5 linked regions of the Homo sapiens genome follow. The protein of the gene in region 4 interacts with the protein of the main gene of each other region in a pairwise test. Each region holds a gene or a part of one and is shown on either strand. Other genes may lie near its edges.

Region 1 (4,206 bases), on a different chromosome or scaffold from region 4:
ACATCCGAAATCATGTTTTTTTCTTCTACAGTCGAAAGTTTGTATTACATGTAAAATAGGAAAAAAATATTAAAATTTTTCGAAAGCGAAAAGTCTACTCAGCAAGTTTTTGGTATTTATTAATGGTTTTACTTTTGCTAGACACAAAAATGAAATACCGCTAAATTAGCTCACAGAAGAGTTCAGGATTCTATAGACTCAGGAAAAGCCTGTCCTAAAACTGTTTTAATAAAGGCTGAAAATAGACACTATAATACAGTCTTTAATAATATACAATGTGTATTCCTCCTGATGGTGGTCTTGCTTGACATTTTAAGCATAGCCCTATTTTCCTGTGAAGATAGCAGCCAGTTCTGCTTCATGTCATAACAACACTTGATTCATGTAAGCAGCTGCTACCTATGCCATCACAGTACACATAATTGCTAAATGTAGGGTTCAAATAATCGTAAATGGACACTAATATGAAAATCAGACTGTTTTGTTGTAACAGCAAAAGTTTTAGAAACAAATAATTTTAGTATCTACTTAGTACAGTAAGCATGAACATATAGTATACAGCTAGGCACAGCAGTAAATTGTTGGAAACACTAACATTTATTGTTTACGAACATACATGCAGTGTTTACACATTTCTTAAATGTTGTCTTTAATGCTGCTGATAAACGAAAGGATAAAAAGTCCAACAAACCACAATAAATGTCAATGGGTGTTATTAACAACATGAAAGAACTCAGTAGCAACAACCACATTTAAAGCTACAGGACTCGAAAGTTCCGGACTACAAATCCCAGAGTTCCCTAGAGCCCAGGCGGAGCTACCTTCAAACTGATCGCTTTTTCACCCAATGACAGCCAGAGAATCCCTAAACCACATTCAGCCCGGCCTGAAGGGCTGGTTTCTTCGCGTGAAAACAATAAGGTATTACGTAGACTTTCTGAACACGAGTGGTAGTTTCAGGGCCTGAGTCTAACTACTAAATTATTTCTCCCCGCATTAGTCTCCTAGTCATCTTAATAACTCTCTACCCAACTCTGGCTCGGTGGAAACTCGGAACGTCTAAATGCTGAAACTCACGTAAATCAGTACCAGCGGATGCATCCAGTCAGCCACGAGGAAGGCGGAATCCGCCTTATTCTTGCCCTTTATTGGCCACGCATCCCACCAATGGGGCCATTAAACTTCCGCTAACGCAGCGTACGGCGTGGTGGTGTGAGCGTTGTACGTACGCTGGGTCTACGAAGGGGCAGGCGTTCTGCTTTCGTCCAATCGGAAGCTAGCAAGAATTCCCCGGGCCGCTATGCCCCACTTCTTTCGCGTCGCGTTACGGGCCGCCTCTCTGCAGCCGACCAATCCTCTTGATTTTCTTGTGCGCATTACCCAATCAGAGAGGTCGAGGCGGGGTTCCACTTGACCGCTCTAAGCCGCCGCGCAGCCTGCGTTTTCTCCGGTACAGGTTGAGGCTACTAAGGTACATTTTGCTGGGCCAGGCTGGGCGGGTCCCCGGGATGGGCAGCCCTCTCGACGAGCGGCGACGCCGTGGTTGAGTCTAGAAAGCTAGAGTTGCTGGACAGCTATCGCGGGAGCGCGGAGGGAAGTGGGAGGTCTGGACGGAGTGTGCACGTGTTGGCAGTCTCGCTCCGCCGTCGGAGCCACCAGGTCAAACCTGTGCTGGCCCTGGCCAAAGAAACTTCTGCGGGTCAGGCTGCTGTTGCCGGTGCAGTTCCCAGTACTTCCTCTGGGGCGTTTTTCAATAAAAGCCAAACGCCCTTGCTCATTTTCAGGGAAAGACCTGTTTCCTCCTGCTCTTTCCTCTCCACGGATACTCTCCCCACCACTAAAAGGGTTTAGTATAATCCTTTTGTAGGCCAGAAAGCAGATTTTCACTTGGGAAGAGACGACCCGTAGTATGGGATGTGGTATGATACCAGCAACTGGTCTATTATATCATTTAAACCACATGGCTATCTAAAGAGGTAGGTACTGTGAGTGTTCTCATTTTCACGCGAAGCAGTGTTAGACATTACTCATTCTTGTGTTTTCTTTAGCTTGTCTCTGACAAATTGTGGCATTCAGCTTCCATGGATGTAAAATTAAAAGATGGTATAATTTGTAAAATGTTGCTCCTGTTTTCTTTTTTGTTTTTCTTTTTCTTTTTCTTTTTTTTTTTTTTTTTTGAGATGGAGTCTCAGGCTGTCGCGCAGGCTGGAGTGCAGTGGGGCGATCTCGGCTTACTGCAACCTCCGCCCCCCGGGTTCAAGCGATTCTCCAGCCTCAGCCTCCCGAGTAGCCGGGATTATAGGCGCCTGGCACCACGCCCGGCTAATTTTTGTATTTTTAGTAGAGACGGGATTTCACCATACTGGTCAGGCCGGTCTCGAACTCCTGACTTCAGGTGATCCACTCGCCTCTGCCTCCCAAAGTGCTGGGATTACAGGCGTGAGCCACCGTGCCCGGCCGTTTTCTTTATTAATTTGAAATTATTTAAAGTCAATAAAAGCCTGGGCGCGGTGGCTCACGCCAGTAATCCCAGCACTTTGGGAGGCCGAGGCGGGCGGATCACGAGGTCAGGAGTTCGAGACCAGCCTGGTCAACATGGTGAAACCCCCGTCTCTACTACGAATGCAAAAATGTGGCGGGCGCCTGTAGTCCCAGCTACTCGGGAGGCTGAGGCAGGAGAATCGCTTGAACCCGGGAGGCAGAGGTTGCAGTGAGCCAAGATCGTGCTACTGTACTCCAGCCTGGGCGACAGAGTGAGACAACGTCTCAAAAAAGAGAAAAAAAAAAGTCAATAAAACACACCTAGAAGTGAATTAATCGATTGTTACCAAGGTAAAATGATCTAGAGGAAAGACATCGCAGTAGGCACCAGTTACTGACCTTTGACTGGACAAGTCAGCATCAGCTTTTTCACCTGTATAATTGAAATAAATACCAAACTTGACTACTTAGAGTTCTGAGGATTAAATAATTTAATAGATACAAAATATGTTACCGATGAAAGCCACGTGACTGTTTCTGCTTTTCAAATTCTTTCTTGTGGAGCCTGGACTGCACTGCAACCTATGGCCGAGTAAAACAGTGGTAACTTGCAGTCAAGTACCATTTAAGTGAGAAATCCTCTGAAACGTCTATGGACTGCTTATCTCCTTGTTCAGTATTCAGGAATACTTTCCTGTGAATGCAGCTATGTTACTTACCTGGTTTGTATTCTTACCTTAGATTGTTGTAGCTATTGTAAAGCAAAAGTAAGATCAAGCCCATGTAACTACTTTTTGGGTTCTTTTCTCTCACTTTGTAAATACAGGGTGTTTTTCCAGACGGGAGTGCGGTGGCACAGTCTTAGCTCACTGCAGCCTCGAACTTCTGAGCTCAAGTGATCCTCCTGCCTCAGCCTCCCAAGTGGCAGGGATTACACACGAGCCACTGTGCCAAACCCGTGAAGTTTTTGAGTTGTACTTTTGTACTAAAGTCATGACTACTTTTTCTGCAACTGACACTATGAGCTGCAAATACGACTGAAGATGCTACTGCTTTTTTACTTTTTCCCTATGTGCTTTAAAGAACTACATTTTCAGTGATTTCCATGTGTTTAAGATATTTTCATTTACTTGGTAGAAAATACAAGAGAATTTTGATAAATCTGAACTGGAATGGTCTTTATGTTAATTCTGTTCAATATTTTAGGGCAGATTATGTACAGATTATCGCCAAACTGTCAAAAGGGTGTATTTTGTTCATATAGCTACTGTAACAAATTACAACAGATTTAGTGACTTCGAATAACACACATTTATTCTTTCTGCCTTTGTTTCTTTCTTTTTTTTTTTTCCTTTGGTGAAAAGTACACACTTAAGAAAGGGGAGTGCAGATGTACTCAAGAGAGTCACCTCTTCCTTTTTTTTTTTTTTTTTTTTGGTAGAGATGAGGTCTCGCTATGTTGCCCAGGTGGGTCTCAAACTCCTGGGCTCAAGCAGTCCTCCCACCTTGGCCTCCCAAAGTTCTGGCATTACTGGCATGAGCCACCATGCTCAGCCTCATTTATTGTCTTTTAGTTCTGGAGGTCAGAAGTATGAAATCAGTTTCACTGGACTAAAGTCAAAGTGTTGCAGGCCCAATTCCTTCTGGAGGCTGTGAGAAGAAAATCCATTTCCTTACCTTTTTCAGCTTGTAGTGGCTGCCTGTCTTCCTTGGCTTGTGGCTCTT
Region 2 (3,452 bases), on a different chromosome or scaffold from region 4:
CTCTACATTTCTTTCCCCACGTTTTTATCCCCAGCGTGGTGTCTGTTTGCTCTTCACACACCCCCTCCCCCCATCCCACATGACGGTGGGAAGGAGGAGATGACCCTGGAAGTCACAGGTTTATAGCGTTTTAATTGCTTTCTATTCAGTGCGCCTCTAACAGAAAAGAACGTTCCCTCCCAACAGCCCCGAGGGAAGCCTCTGAGCGACCTGGTGAAGTTCTTAAGCCTCAACGGACAATTTTCACAGCACATAGCTCTAAATGAAATTATTTGTTTGCATAGGAAATTATTTTCTGCCTGCTCCCAACAGAACGTCATCCCTGTGAGGTCCTAACTGGCCAATCTCATTCTCCATTGGCTATTCCTGAGGCCTTGCAACATTGCTGCACCTAGGATGCCCCGGACAGAGGAAGGAGTGGACAAAACCAAATCAGAGGCAGAGTAGCCCCCACACGGCTCCCTTTCTTCAGGCTATGTCATCTCTACCCTGGTTTGTTGGAGCATCAGAGGTCACAAGCTATAGGCAAAGCTGAAAAATAAAAAGAAGTATCCAGAAAAGTGAGCCTTCATTCCTGGTCTCATCCTCCCTAGCCATGGGAGACTCTGAGTAAGGCGGTCCACTTCTCTGAGCTGAAATTCCCTTCGCTCTTTAGGGAAGATCATTCCCCCTGCCCTGTTCACCTCACAGGCTTGCTAAGGAGGATCTAAGTTGTCTTGAAACATGGGAGGCAGGTTGAGCAAGCTCTTCCTAATTATCTCCCAATATACTCCTTCAGGAACTTATCCAAACTCACCTGATCAGAATTACTGTGTATGCAGAATGGACATTGAAGGCTCAGAGAGGGAGAGGGTGAGAAGGGGGCTAAGGGATGAAAAATCACCTACTGGGTACATACAATGTATATTATCTGGGTGATGGGTACACTAAAGCCCAAACTTCACCATTATACAATTCATCCATGTAACCAAAAGCCACTTATACCTCTAAAGCTGTTGAAATTAAAAAAAAAAATTACTATATATGCTCAAGTCTTCTCAATACCTGTCCTTATGCATGGTCCTGTACATTCTCTGCTTTTAATGTCTTTAAACCCTCCTGTCTACTTATCTGGAATGACCCATAACATAGCCCATTTCAAGTCTGTGTCCTTGACAAAGCACTTCCCCATTTCCCTAAACCTGAAATAATCTTACTTTCCGTTAAATTGTCATAACATTTTATCTGTGTATCTAGAAACACTGAAATCTGCAGCTACCTCATTATTTCACAAGAAGCTTAAGGAGGGCAGCTAAATTAGCTAAGCAGCCCCGTGGTTGTCCCTGTTCTTTCTATGTATACTAGAATTCCTTAGACTTCGTTACTGGAGGGCAAGCTCACTGCAGGCATTGCCCACCAATTTACTACATTCGAGCCTACATCTTCTATATTTTTGCTGGTCAGAGCTAAGGTTGAGGTTTGGGAGGCAACAGAGATTCCAAGGCTTGATTGCTGTGTAATTAACCCATCTGAGTCCTTAGGATAGAAAGGTTGTGATAACAATAGAATGGAACTTGACCAGTGTGATCTGATTCCAGAGAGGGGAAACTCCCTGTATAGGAAGTTTAAAGAGCTGCCATAGGGCTCACTTTTGGTTCTCTCAAGAATTTTTTTCTCTCTTGTTATCATTCTTATCACTCATCCTTCAAGCTTGCCATATTCTTTTTAAAAACTACTTCCGGTCAGGCGTGGTGGCTCATGCCTGTAATCCCAGCACTTTGGGATGCCGAGGCGGGTGGATCACCTGAGGTCAGGAGTTCGAGACCAGTCTGGCCAACATGGCGAAACCCTGTCTCTACTAAAAATACAAAAATTAGCTGGGCGTGGTGGCGCATGCTTGTAATCCCAGCTACTTGGGAGGCTGAGACAGGAGAATCACTTGAACACGGGAGGCGGAGGTTGCAGTGAGCCGAGATTGTGGCACTGCATTCCAGCCTGGGTGACAGAGCAAAACAACGTCTCAGAAAAAAACAAACAAACCAAAAACCACTTCCTGAAACACCTTTACCATACAAACATTGTTAAATTGGTTCACCTCTTCCCCATGCAAAATGAAGCACCTTGGCTATACTTTAACCTACAGACACAAAAGATATTTTAAAAGTCATTAACTTTCTTTTCTGTGTTTCAGAAGTTTGATTCAGTAGAAGACATCATCGAACACTACAAGAATTTTCCCATTATACTAATTGATGGGAAAGATAAAACTGGGGTCCACAGGAAACAGTGTCACCTCACTCAGCCACTCCCTCTCACCAGACACCTCTTGCCTCTGTAGCCTGGTCTTTGTGTTATCTTTGGTTTACTGGATTCAGCGCTTCCATTGTTTTCATTGATTTCAAAAGTTTATTTTCTGTGCCTTCAAGGGACAACTTTTTTAACTTTGGAGAAAAGAAAAACACTCTATAACAGAGAGTGGAAAATCACTCACGGTTTTGAAAGTTCAAACCACAGAGAAAATATTTATAACATGCAAAAAATAAAAACATTCTAGTAACTGGCCACTGGAAAATAAATAAAAATAAAAACTAGGGTTTTAAAAGTATCTTCTAAAAAACAACAACAAAAAATACTATAAACATAGCCATTATGCTCATGATACAGGCGAGCAGCAAAGGGCACCAGAAGCTGTTGCTTAAATGTTTGCAGTCAGTGCAAGACAAGTCTATGGGAAATTCCCAAATCTGTGCTCTTTACAGGACACTGCGCTGCCTTTATGTCAGTTGTTGGGCCTTACATATATACAATGTGTGGATGATTTCTTACACTAAAGATGCTGGGCTGGGTGCGGTGCCTCATGCCTGTAATCCCAGCACTTTGGGAGGCTGAGGTGGACAGATCACGAGGTCAGGAGATCAAGACCATCCTGGCTAACATGGTGAAACCCCATGTCTACTAAAAATACAAAAAATCAGCTGGGCGTGGTGGTGGGTGCCTGTAGTCCCAGCTACTCGGGAGGCTGAGGCAGGAGAATGGTGTGAACCCGGGAGGCGGAGCTTGCAGTGAGCCGAAATCGCGCCACTGCACTCCAATCCAGCCTGGGGACAGAGAGACTCCGTCTCAAAAAAAAAAAAAGGTGTTGGGTTGGTGAATATTAGCTCTCTTTTATTGTAATCCTAGAAATTCAAGTATAGGGAAGAAATGTGGTATGGAAAACCAGCAATTGTGAATGTCACCTTGAAGACAGAAACTGAAAATCCTCTGACTAGGGTGTGAAACGGTCATGGGACCAGCCTCCAGCATCATCTGCTTCAAGTAGCTTTAAGTCAAATGGAATTAACACATTCATAGTACAGAGCTCAGATTATATCCTACACTAGCCTTCAGGCAAGCATATGTCTGAGGGAAACTAAAAATTGTATTAACAATTCCAATTATGGACTTCCATTCAAAGACAGAGAAAAACTGTCCTC
Region 3 (3,515 bases), on a different chromosome or scaffold from region 4:
CTACAGGGAACGTATAATATTAAAGGTTGATTACACCCAGTTATTGGTTAGATTTTTAGAAATTTGTCAATGGAAATTATCTCAAATACAATATATTGGATGGAAAAGCAAGTATCATACAATCTATTAAAATTTTTAACATACAAAACAATACCATATGTTCTAATGGATGCATCCCTGTCTAACAAAAGTACAAAAACATCTCAGGGAAGGATTCATTCCTACCGAGACAGTGGTAGCTGATGGGTCAAGGGATGAGGATGGTGTGAGGCTTTAGCTGTATCTGAAATGTTTCTTAACAAAACAAAATGAGCCAAGACCAACATGACAAAATGTTAGCATTTGTTAAATCTGAGCAGTACTCACTGGTATTTGCAAAATTATTTTCTGAACACTTGAAATAATTTATAATTTTAAACATTTCCAATGCAAGAACATTATAAACTTTTAAGAATAAAGTAAAAATTTAGCTTAAGAAGTGGCAAAATGGAGGAAATATCAACATCTTCACAACTGACAATTCTTTCTGTGTTGCATGTCTCTGACAGACATAGACGAGTGCACTGCAGGGACGCACAACTGTAGAGCAGACCAAGTGTGCATCAATTTACGGGGATCCTTTGCATGTCAGTGCCCTCCTGGATATCAGAAGCGAGGGGAGCAGTGCGTAGGTAAGTACCACAGTGCAGTGAGCACGGTCCTGTCTTGAGTACCTTAACTGTTTCAACCTCAAGCATTCCAATCAAAGCATTCATGTTTCTTTGGAGAGTGGTAGCCAATAATTCCTTATTTTTTTATAGACTACCAATCCATTTTCCACAATAACAAGAAACAACCTTAAAGGTTGAGCTATTCTGGATAACAAAGTGTTGGTTAAATGTTAGACGAAGCAAGAGCAGAAATTTGGGGTATGAATGGGACAATAAAAACAACCACAAAAAAATTTAAATTTGCTGTTTTGGGGGCCATCGCGCTAACACACTGGTACTGTGGGCTTCATTCACCATTCACTGCTGCAGAGCATAGCATAGCACAGCACATAGAGCAAATGGTGGAGTTGCATTCCAAGCACCAACCCCAGCTCGCTTTGAGACCTTGAGCAAGTTACTTAAATCCTGTGTCTCACTATGTTCACTTGTACTGTGGAGATGATACTAGGCCCTACCTCCAGAGCTCATGTAGGGAATGCTTAGAATAGTGCCTGTCCCTGTGCAGTAAAGCTGTTTGCTATCGTTGTATTCTGAGTCAACAGATGGGTATTAAAGGCTCTTTATACTGCAAGCCTTTGTAGGGTACCATGAGTACAAAGCCAAGTTCAGCACGTGCCTCTGCTGGAGGGCCTAAGAGCGTGAGCTCCCTGACAGCAAGACCAGGTCATCTTGTGTCACTGTGGTCTCCCCAGTCCCTGAAGTGTGCCCACCATGTGATGGAGGCTCTATGCGTGTGTTTTGAGTGAATGGAAGATCAAAGTATGAGGAAGCCAACTGGCAGATAGTGAAGTAAAATACAGTACTCTGGGCTCAATCATGAGGCCCAGCACTAGGCATGAAACTCTGACTGTCCATTTATTTACATACCCCTTCTTACCACAGATCAGTGAAAAAGCCTTATTTCCTCTTAGGAACAGAGGGTGAGGATGTGGGGACAGACAACCAGCGTCAGTTTTCGCCTGAGAATGTGAGCTGTTGATGTTCACATGTCAACACTGAGTTCCATGTGGGCCCCAGCCCAGTTCTGTCTGCCATAGGGCTGTGCCTAGATGCTGGGGTTAGTGCCCAGCCTCTGAGGAAGGCCCAGGGTTTGCTATAAATGAAGCTGTGATTTAAAAGAAGAGTGTGTAGAAAACTCCAGAGATAACAAAGTTTGGCCATTGTATTAGACAGGAAAATAAATATTTGAGGGCATAAAAAGTACAGAAAAAAGAACTAATCCAACTTAGTGTGGGGTGAATCAAAGATAATGGAACATACGGTCACAGCCCTTTTAATGTGGTAGGAGGAAATATTCCTAAACTCAGATCTAATCATGTGTCTTCCCCTCCTGCTTCCCTCACTGAGAGAATCAAGTCTACATTCCTCGACAGAGCATGAAAGGTCTTGCTCAATCTGATCATTGTCCAGTTCTGTTGCATAAACACCTCTCCCCCACCACAAAATATTACACCCCAGCTTTATTCCACCAGTTCCCCACACACGTCACACAGTGTTACTTACACTTTGGTGCCTCTATACAAGCTCTTTACACAACAAAAACATTCCCTCCTGGCAAATTCTTATTTCACTGTCAAATCCTAGCTTAGGATCACTTCCTCTGGGAAGCCTGCTATGATTTACCCAAATATAATTAGTTGCTCCTCCCCTGTGCCAGTACTTCTCAAATTATGATGAAGGATACTTTTTTGTAAATTTCCAATCTACGGCAGACCAATACTTCTGTAAAGCACAATAAAAATAATGTTGCACTAATGTCAAATTGCTATTTCTAAACATGTACTCTCAGTTTCTGTATTTATTCATTGCAGACTGGTCCAAATAGCCCATGAACCAGCAGCAGTCAGCAGGCCACACTTCAAGTAGCATGGTGCTCCCTGTGTCCCATACACTCCTTTCTATTGTTGATCTTCTCATTCCATGGAATAATTTGTTTCATGCCTGTCTTTCATACCAGACAAGGCAGAACACATGTATACTGATTATCATTATAAACTTGGGGTGCCAAACACAGTACCAGCAAATAAGAATGGTTCAATGAATGTTTATTAGTTAAGAAGACATGCGTCACATATTCACCAAATAGTTATTGAGGGCTTACTGTGTAACAAGCATTGTTCTAGGAACTGGGATAATAGTAAACAAATTTTACAAATTCATAGCCCTCGTGGAGCTATTAGAAAGTATAATACCATTCATACAAATTAGCTATCAATACTAGCACCTGATGATAGTACTGAGGACTAGGAAGCACTATGCTAAAATTGCTCTTAATTAGTGTGAAGTTTCGATTTATTCGAATAATGTTTATTGAACACCTACTACTATGCCAGGCCCTATTCCAGATCTAACAATGAACAGACAAAAAACCCTCTACCTCCACCTCAAGGGGAGAATGTCATGCACTATAGTGAGGGAACACACAAGAAGCAAATAAACACATAACACAATGTCGAGTACTGTTAAGGACTACAAAGAAGTCTAAAGCAAGGTAAGGGAATAGATAGGGCAGAAGAACCTATTTGATATTGGTGGGAAAGGTGGCCACCCTGAGGAGGTGACATTTGAATGGACACCTGAACCAAAGTAAGGGGAAAAGCCATGTGAATATCTTCTTACTATTTATTTCAGTATTCAAGTTAAATCAAATATATCTTGCAGCTTATTAGCTCCCATTTATGTTTACTTGCTTTGTGCCAGTAACTTTGCCTACATTATGTCTTGTAACCCTCCCAATAATTCTACTCACAGAAGAGGAAATGCAAGCTCGAGAAGTTAAGACCAAGCTAGTAATTGCCAGAACAA
Region 4 (4,155 bases):
TTGTGTTGCATTTCAATCACGGTAACAATAATGGTAGTATTTTATTAATAAATTCAAGTAAAAACTGAAGATGACAATGATAGTGTATGATACATGACATCAACTTTGCATCACCTAAAGATCCAACTTTTCTGTTATGAATCTAGATTTCTTGGGGAAATCCAGATTGTATATTGGACATAGGAATTAAGATTACTGGACTTGAACTTTTTTGTAACTAACAACTTTATTGAGATATAATTCGGGTACCAACTCATACCTGAACAGCTTTTTAGACTTTTTTTCTAGCCCTTTTTTCTCTGTCCTTTCGGTTTTCTTTTAAAAAGGTCCATACTATTCAAGAAACACAACTTTTAAAGTCCACAATAATTCTCATTAGATTTTAATATTTATCTCCCCCCAAGCTTTACTGAAATACTAATGATATTCATTTTTTTAACCACTTTTCATCGTAAGAGAAATACAAATTTTCCTATTGATTCTTATGCACAAAAATCAAGTTTTTGTGGTACTGCTATACATTAGTAGTATGTTCAGCCAGTTTCCAAAGAAATTAGTCAAGATCCCAACATGCAACTTGTATACCACACTACCTTGGAATTCGGCGGCACAAACAACTATTCCTTGTACAAAACCTCCCTGAAAACGACTAAATGGAAAAGTGGATGGCTTGAAACAAGGAATGTTTGGTTTTTTAAAAAGCATTTTTCACAATTTAGTCGAGGTGTGGGGAGGGTTTCCCCACTTGTGGCTCTGCACAGCGTGCGCGCGCGTCTGTCCTGGGGTCCCCTCCCTGCGGGGACGAGGCCGGGGTCCCCGCGCGAGCCCAGCGGACCTGGGCAGTGCGGGGGTCCGACCGCCCGCCACAGGGGGACAGGGACCGCAGCCGCCAAATCCGCGGGGCCGGGGAACGAGGAGACTTTCCTTTCCGCGTTAGCCGGGGCCACCCCCGCCAGAGGGAAAGCACCAAAGGAAAAACCAGGACAGGGACTCTGGGGGCCGGAGGAGCGGCCTCCTGCAGGCACCAGCGGAGGGGCGCGGGGGTGGGGGAAGGGATCAGGGCTCCGCGCTCCGTCCGCCCCACGACCCCGGCCCGGCGCCCCTCCCCTCGGAACCCCCACTTAGTGCCCGGCCCCCGCCCCGCCCCGCGCGGCCCCCGGCCTCAGCCCCGCGCGCCCCGACGCCCCGCCTGCGCCGCGGGCCCGAGTAGTGGACGGGGGGCGGCCCGCTCGGCTCCTCCGCACCCGCTCCCCGCTCGGGCCGAGGCGCCGCGGCCGCGCGCCCCTCCTGGAGGAGGAGGAGGAAGGAGGCGGGAGGAGGAGTTGCCGAGAGGAGAAGGCGAGCGCGGCAGTCGCGCCGGCGCTGGGCGAGGAAGCGGAGCCGGGCCGCCTCCGGGTAAGCGTCCGGGGAGCTCGGGCGGGAGGCAGGGGCAGGGCTTCGCCGTCCGCCTCCGGGTCGCCCGCGGTCCGGGACACGGCTGGTTTTCGCCTCGGAGTGCAGGGGGCGGATCCGGCGCGGGCCGGGCCAGGGAGGCCGCCGGGCGCGGGGCTGCAGCGACGGGTCTGGGTCAGCGCGAGGCCCTGCGCCGTCTCGGCGGGTGCGCGGGCGGGGGCCAGGGCCGGGGAACGGGGGCCGGGGCCAGTCCCGGGAGCGGGGACGCGGAAACCGGGAAGCCGGGGCCGGGGCGCGGCGGCCCCTGAAGGGCCGAGGCCTGCGCGGCCGCGGACGGCTCTTCTCGACCCCTCGGCCTCTTCGGCCGCGGCGCGCCGGCCTGGGCCGCCGCCTTTGTTGCCCGCAGCTCGCCGGGGAGAGGCCGGGGCTCCGCGAGGCCTGGGCAGCGGCGCGGGGCCTGCGCGGCTCTGCGCCCCGGCCGGGTCCCTCCTCGGACCTCCGCGGGCTCGGGCTCGGGCTCGGGGTCGGGGCGCGGCGAGGCCGCAGGCGCGAGGGCGGGCCTGGGGCGCGGCGCTGGGACTCGGGGACGCCCCCGCCCCACCGCGAGGTCGCGCCGGCGCTGGTGGAGGTGCAGGCCGGGGCTGCTCTGCGGCTGAAGGTGCCGCCGGCCGGCTGCGCACTCACCCGGGTGTAGGGACCGGACGATTGTGGAATTTAAACCGCTCCTGGGACCGACACGGGCCTGAATTTTCAGTTTGCTTCGGGAGTTGGCAACTTCAGGTACACCCTTGTGGCTCACGGAGCAGAATTATGGACGTTTCTCAGGGGCAGATCCTGGCACAAAACTTGGGATATGTGCAGTAGTGTGTGTGCCAACTTAACGTTCAGTTGGAATGTGAAATTGGGGTTCCCATCCCCACTGTTTGGAATGAAGGGCCAGGTGGGAATATGTGGCGGGACTCAGTCTTCCGGTAGCAAAATAAATAATGTTGAATTCATTTCAACAAATGTTTCTGCAACGTCTGCCCGGATAAGGCAGCATGCACTGTGCATGAGGACAGAGAACACAGTAATGACAGAAATAACGTGAATTACACACTGAACGTCTCCCAGAGACATTTTAAATTTACTGTGTTCCTTGGGATAAAGATACATTTGGAATCAAACAAAAGTAAACGTTCTACTTCAAGATAAAATATCTGACATCTTCTCAACCACTGAAGGTAGCAATTTATCTTGACTTGTTTTTAACCAACTACCACAACATTAAATCCATTTAGCTTACTTGAATGAACGAATCTTAATTGTAATATTTAATGCTGTGGACAGCCTTACTTAAAAACACGAATGGCATTGCTCACCAGGTTTCACAAAAACCGGAAAAAAAGTCTGTAATACTTTTCCGTGGGCTTTCTAATTTCTCCTCCTAGTGGGTTTTGTGCACGCGTGGATATGGTAAGGTCTAGGATCCATTCAGCTCTAAATTAAATATGTGGCCTTAACCCTTTGGTTCAAACACCCTCCCTAAGCCTGCCTTGGTGCCTTGGAGGAACCTGGTTCGTGGACAGTGGATTTGATAAGGATTCCTAGAAGAACTTCTATCTGGAGTTTGGCCAGGGCTTTCCGCTTGTGCCTGGGTAAGGGTCAGCCAGGTATTCACCCGAATCTATACTTTTTTAGAACTCCATTCAGCATCTCTTTTGAAACACTGTTTCTCTCTTACCTTTATCGTTATCTTCTAAATTACCCTCTAAATTGGTAGTCTTGCCCCTTTCTCTTCAGCAGGGCCTCCCACCCAAGCGCACACCCTCGGGTCATCCCATGACCCCCTCTCTTGGTGGGCCCCCCACCCCGCAGGGAGTGGCAGGGAAGGAATTTGAGAGCCATTGACTGGGCGTAGGGTGGAAAATGGTGCTGTACTGACTGGGTTTCTAGTCATTTTGCCTTCCAGTGTTTTTCTTCATTCTTGCATTAGAACTGGAAAAGGTGTTCTTTTAATGGCCCCCCTTTTTTTAGGAAACAGAAAGCAAGTATCTTCTTTTTTGTTTTTCCTCTGTCACCCAGGGTGGAGTGCAGTGGTGCAATCATGGCTCACTGCAGCCTTGAACTCCTGGGCTCAAGTGATCCACCTCCCTCAGCCTCCTGAGTAGCTTGGACCACAGACATGTGCCACCACACCTGGCTGATTGTTTTTTGGAGAGGTGGGGTCTTGCTGTGTTGCCGAGGCTGGTCTCAAACTCTAGGCCTCAAGATCCTCTCACCTCAGCCTCCCAAAGCCCTGGGATTACAGGCACGAACCACCACACCCAGCCTGCAAGTGTCCTCTTAAGCCTTCTTGTGTAACTACACTCCTTAGAGAAAAATCTTGCTAGTTTTCTCCATTATGGCCAGTTTTCAGGAAACTTTTGGGTTATTGATCATATCTTTTATTTTGCTCATAGAGGTGTGATCTTATTTAAAAGTCCAAACATATAGATGGTCCCCAATTTTGGACTTTTTGACTTTTTGATGGAGCAAAAACGATACACATTTAGTATGCACTTCGACTTACATCCAGATAAACCCACTGTGAGTTTTGACTTTAAGATATTTTCAATTTATCATGGGCTTATTGGGACTCAATTATTGTTATTCTCTTAAAAATATGCACTCGTGACCTCTTCCAATTCTGGAAATTATATTTACATCTGTGGTGCCGAAGTACTTTTGTAAAATTATTCATTTTACAAGGGAGAAATTCCAAATACTAGTATATGTCATAAA
Region 5 (3,515 bases), on a different chromosome or scaffold from region 4:
CTGTGTCCCTGCCTCCTAGGGAGGACGCTGCCTGGCCCAACCATTCAGATGGATCGGGTTGGGAAGAGTTTAATGCTGTCTTCCATGTTGTAGCATATGGATTGGTCACTGTGTCCATGGACATAATGTGAAAATTCTCAAGTCCATATGTCTTCCAGGGACTTGTGAAAACTAACCAGGTCATTTTGATCGCAAAATATAGAACAGGAATAAAACCCACACAAAGGGACCTTCACCCACCAAGGGACAGGATTTAAATGCTTAGTATCTCCAGGTCATATGTCTCTCGAACACACCTGGCTTCCACTCAGGTCATTTAGCCGTAACAGCTTTGCAGCTCAGACACGTGTGTTCCCAGTGTACCCAAGTTGACAATCTAACCTCTCCACAGCTTCTCTCTGACAATTGTAAATTAGGAGTTCAGCCAGTCTGGCTTCATCTTCATCATAGAAAAGGCTGCTCTGAGAAAAGGGTCTCCTAAGGCTACTTAACATTGATGTAGACAGGGCTCACCACTCCCTGTGTCCTCAGCTGTCGACCTGTCTTACTGGTGGGACTTCAAGAGGCCATACTTGGGTGCTTCCTGACCCTCTCCTTATTACCAAAGTCAAATGCAGAGCAAGGTTTGAATCCCAACAGGAGCCTCTGGAGCCCATACTCTTGCCACCAAGTTTCCTCTTTGAGAAGAAGGCCCAGCTTCACAGGTCTTTTCTACTGGTGGAGGGAAGAGTGGCGACCCTCCACCAGTTATGGGCTTGAGCATACCCTGTTTCAGTGAGTAGACAAAGCACGGGATGCACATCAAATCTGAGCTTTCCTTTTCTTTTTGGTTTTGGTTCATTGGATATAGATTGCACTTGCGGCTCCGTACACATGGCGTGTGTGTGCACATGTGAAATTCAGGGTATGCGTTCGTGGTCTATATGCAGGTGTACTCTGTGACACCTCTCTGACATGGGAGAAGCTCTCTGTGGGCCTGTGCTTCGTGAGGAACAGAGCAGCTCACAGGGAAAGTCATGGATGAGGGAGGGAGGGGGCAGGGTGCCTGCTGCCCAGCTCTGGGGCAGGCTTATGTGTCAGTGATGATCTGTTACTGAGTCCCAGTCGCACAGCTCTCAGCATCTCCAGCACTGACCATCATCTGCTGCCCTTGTTTCTCTCACAGGACGTGAGCGACAGAATAGAAAAGGAATCCCTGGATGGCCCGATCGTGAAGCAGTTAGAGAGAGGCGGGAGAGCCGTGGTGAAGATGGACTGGCGGGAGAACATCACTGTCCCCCTCCAGACAGGTGATCATGCTGCAGCGTGTGAGAGGGCAGGTTGCAAAAGTCGCTGCCGCCTTTCCAAAAAGTAAACGTGGAAATGGCCGCTCCAGGCTGTTCAGGCCCCACATCCCACCTGTCAGGTTTGAGACTTTCTTGGGTGTGTCCTCTGTGGTTTGGTTACACTGATGTGTGTTTCATTTTTGTTCCCTAGAGTGACAGGTGAGTGATGGTGTCGTGCTCTAGGTGGTCATTTCTGACCTGGGTGTGATCACCAGGTGGGGTTCAGGGGGATACCACCCTTGGGTTGGATGGGAGGATCTGCTCCCATGCCTAGGTGTGGAGTGACCTCACCTTTCAGTCCAACTCCCTAATCCCAGGACCCCATGAATTGTTTTCTTTTAAAATGTATTAGTTTTAAATTTGATTACCCATTGCTTCCCTCAATGTTTTTCTAGACCTGCGTAAATTCAGGACCTATAAAGGTGGTTCTGTCAGAGATCTCCTCCGAGCCATGAGAAATAAGGTAAGCAGTTTGTAAATGCTGGGGAGGAGACCCAGTGGCCATGACATGGACACCTTCCTCCTTTCATCCATTCTTTATAAATCTTTTATCTGTACTGGCATTCTCATCTCTCAGGAGCTAGGCGGCTTCAGCTGGACTTGGCAAACTGCAGGCTGTTGCCTCTCTTACGCTGATTTTCCCTTCAGGGACGTAGGTGCAGGTGAAGCTCCGGGAAGCAGTGCTCTGCGGCCCATGTCCCTCATGGTCTCTGGTCGCTGACTTTTGTGGGGCCCTCTCCCTGTCTGATGCAGCCACTGTGTGTAAACATGTATAAACATACCTCAAATGCGGGGACCCCACTGGGACGGACACTCCAATCTCAGGCGACTTTACTCCTCCTGAGGTGGCCAGGAGTGTCTCCAGGTCCTGACTGTCACAGAAGGCCTGAGCACCCCCTGGACTGGCTGGGCCTTGCTCACTTCAAGGCCTCCTCCTGAGTGAGGGTAGCAGGCGAGATGACGGGGCTGGATTCTTGGATACATAAGCCTTTTTTCTTTTTCTTTACCAAAAACCAACACTCACATTCTGTCTCTTCCTTGCATGATGAAAGGGTGTTTTGCCAACATTTCCCGAGCTTTCTAACCCCTTTCTAATCTCCCGAGCTTTCTAACTCTTTGCAGAAGCACCACTACCGGGAGCTGCCTGCAGAGGTGCGGGAGACGCTGGGGTCCCTCCCCGACGACTTCGTGTGCTACTTCACATCTCGCTTCCCCCACCTCCTCGCACACACCTACCGGGCCATGGAGCTGTGCAGCCACGAGAGACTCTTCCAGCCCTACTACTTCCACGAGCCCCCAGAGCCCCAGCCCCCAGTGACTCCAGACGCCCTCTGAGCGAGGGCGGCCCCTCTGTTCTGGTGGCCCCAGCTGTGACTGAGGGCCTGGTCACCACAATTAGAGCTTGATGCCTCCCGGCTTTGCAGGGAGACCAGGCTTCCCAAACCAAGTGCCTTGAGCTGCCTGCTCTGCAGCCCACAGAGGACAGTGCTGACCCCAGGAAGTGGGAGAAGTGGCCCCTCGTGACCTACAGGGAACTGGGAAGATGCTGGCCCCAAAAGCCTTACGGTCATGATGTCTGCAAAGGAGGGCCTCAGAGACAGCGCGAGTAGCACCCCCAGCCATCTACTGGATAAACTTGCTTCAGACTTTTTAAATTCCTGCTTAATGTCAGTCTACAGGCCTTTCAGGAAGGGAGAGGAGGGAATCGTACATTTTGCTTGCGTGCTGGGACAGCTAGGCTGAGATGCACCAAGTACAGCCTTCACTGGAGACCGGAATTGAGAGGTGGGGGATGCTGAGGAGGGGGAGGACGGAGTTCAGAGGGTGTCGTCCTGCAGTGTGAGATTTCTCATTGATCACAGATGTGCCCAGAGTAGCCCAGGTCACTGTTAACTAGTGTTTCTGCAGAGGCAGCAGGAGCCATGAGCATGAGGTGTGGCATTAGGGACTGGTCAGCTATGCATGCTGGCAGGTGGGGTTGTGTCTGCAGGTCTCAGAAATGAAGAGGCTGCTCTGTTCTGGAGGCAGCCGTGGCCCAGTGCCAGTGGCCAGAACAGTGGCCTTTGGTGGGTGTGTCCCGGGCCATCTCGGGGTGGTGCTCAGGAGCGCCTGGGGCAAGAGGTAAAGAGTTCCCTGGCCTTCAAGGAGAGCAGCGAAGACCCAGACAGGGGCCAGCCTTCAGGACCAGAG

The links.
Region 1: the proteins of SOCS6 (region 4) and WDR89 interact in a two-hybrid assay, tested with the Homo sapiens proteins (one large-scale study listed by BioGRID and IntAct).
Region 2: the proteins of SOCS6 (region 4) and CLNK interact in a two-hybrid assay, tested with the Homo sapiens proteins (one large-scale study listed by BioGRID and IntAct).
Region 3: the proteins of SOCS6 (region 4) and EFEMP1 interact in a two-hybrid assay, tested with the Homo sapiens proteins (one large-scale study listed by BioGRID and IntAct).
Region 5: the proteins of SOCS6 (region 4) and ERN1 interact in binary tests that used the Homo sapiens proteins (3 or more experiments, as listed by UniProt).

Annotation. Positions count from the first base shown.
Region 1 is NC_000014.9:63,639,069-63,643,274, reverse strand, and holds the start of WDR89 (WD repeat-containing protein 89), read left to right. Parts: upstream 1-1,403; 5' UTR 1,404-1,471; exon of another isoform or gene 1,472-1,976; intron 1,977-4,206.
Region 2 is NC_000004.12:10,489,332-10,492,783, reverse strand, and holds part of CLNK (cytokine-dependent hematopoietic cell linker), read left to right. Parts: intron 1-312; coding exon of another isoform or gene 313-336; exon of another isoform or gene 337-1,046; intron 1,047-2,170; coding exon 2,171-2,317; 3' UTR 2,318-3,452. UniProt on the Homo sapiens protein: An adapter protein which plays a role in the regulation of immunoreceptor signaling, including PLC-gamma-mediated B-cell antigen receptor (BCR) signaling and FC-epsilon R1-mediated mast cell degranulation.
Region 3 is NC_000002.12:55,878,768-55,882,282, reverse strand, and holds part of EFEMP1 (EGF-containing fibulin-like extracellular matrix protein 1 precursor), read left to right. Parts: intron 1-548; coding exon 549-671; intron 672-3,515. UniProt on the Homo sapiens protein: Binds EGFR, the EGF receptor, inducing EGFR autophosphorylation and the activation of downstream signaling pathways. May play a role in cell adhesion and migration. May function as a negative regulator of chondrocyte differentiation.
Region 4 is NC_000018.10:70,287,696-70,291,850, forward strand, and holds the start of SOCS6 (suppressor of cytokine signaling 6), read left to right. Parts: upstream 1-1,349; 5' UTR 1,350-1,395; exon of another isoform or gene 1,396-1,597; intron 1,598-1,972; exon of another isoform or gene 1,973-2,172; intron 2,173-2,201; exon of another isoform or gene 2,202-3,029; intron 3,030-3,045; exon of another isoform or gene 3,046-4,155. UniProt on the Homo sapiens protein: SOCS family proteins form part of a classical negative feedback system that regulates cytokine signal transduction.
Region 5 is NC_000017.11:64,043,133-64,046,647, reverse strand, and holds part of ERN1 (serine/threonine-protein kinase/endoribonuclease IRE1 precursor), read left to right. Parts: intron 1-1,165; coding exon 1,166-1,289; intron 1,290-1,720; coding exon 1,721-1,788; intron 1,789-2,447; coding exon 2,448-2,660; 3' UTR 2,661-3,515. UniProt on the Homo sapiens protein: Serine/threonine-protein kinase and endoribonuclease that acts as a key sensor for the endoplasmic reticulum unfolded protein response (UPR).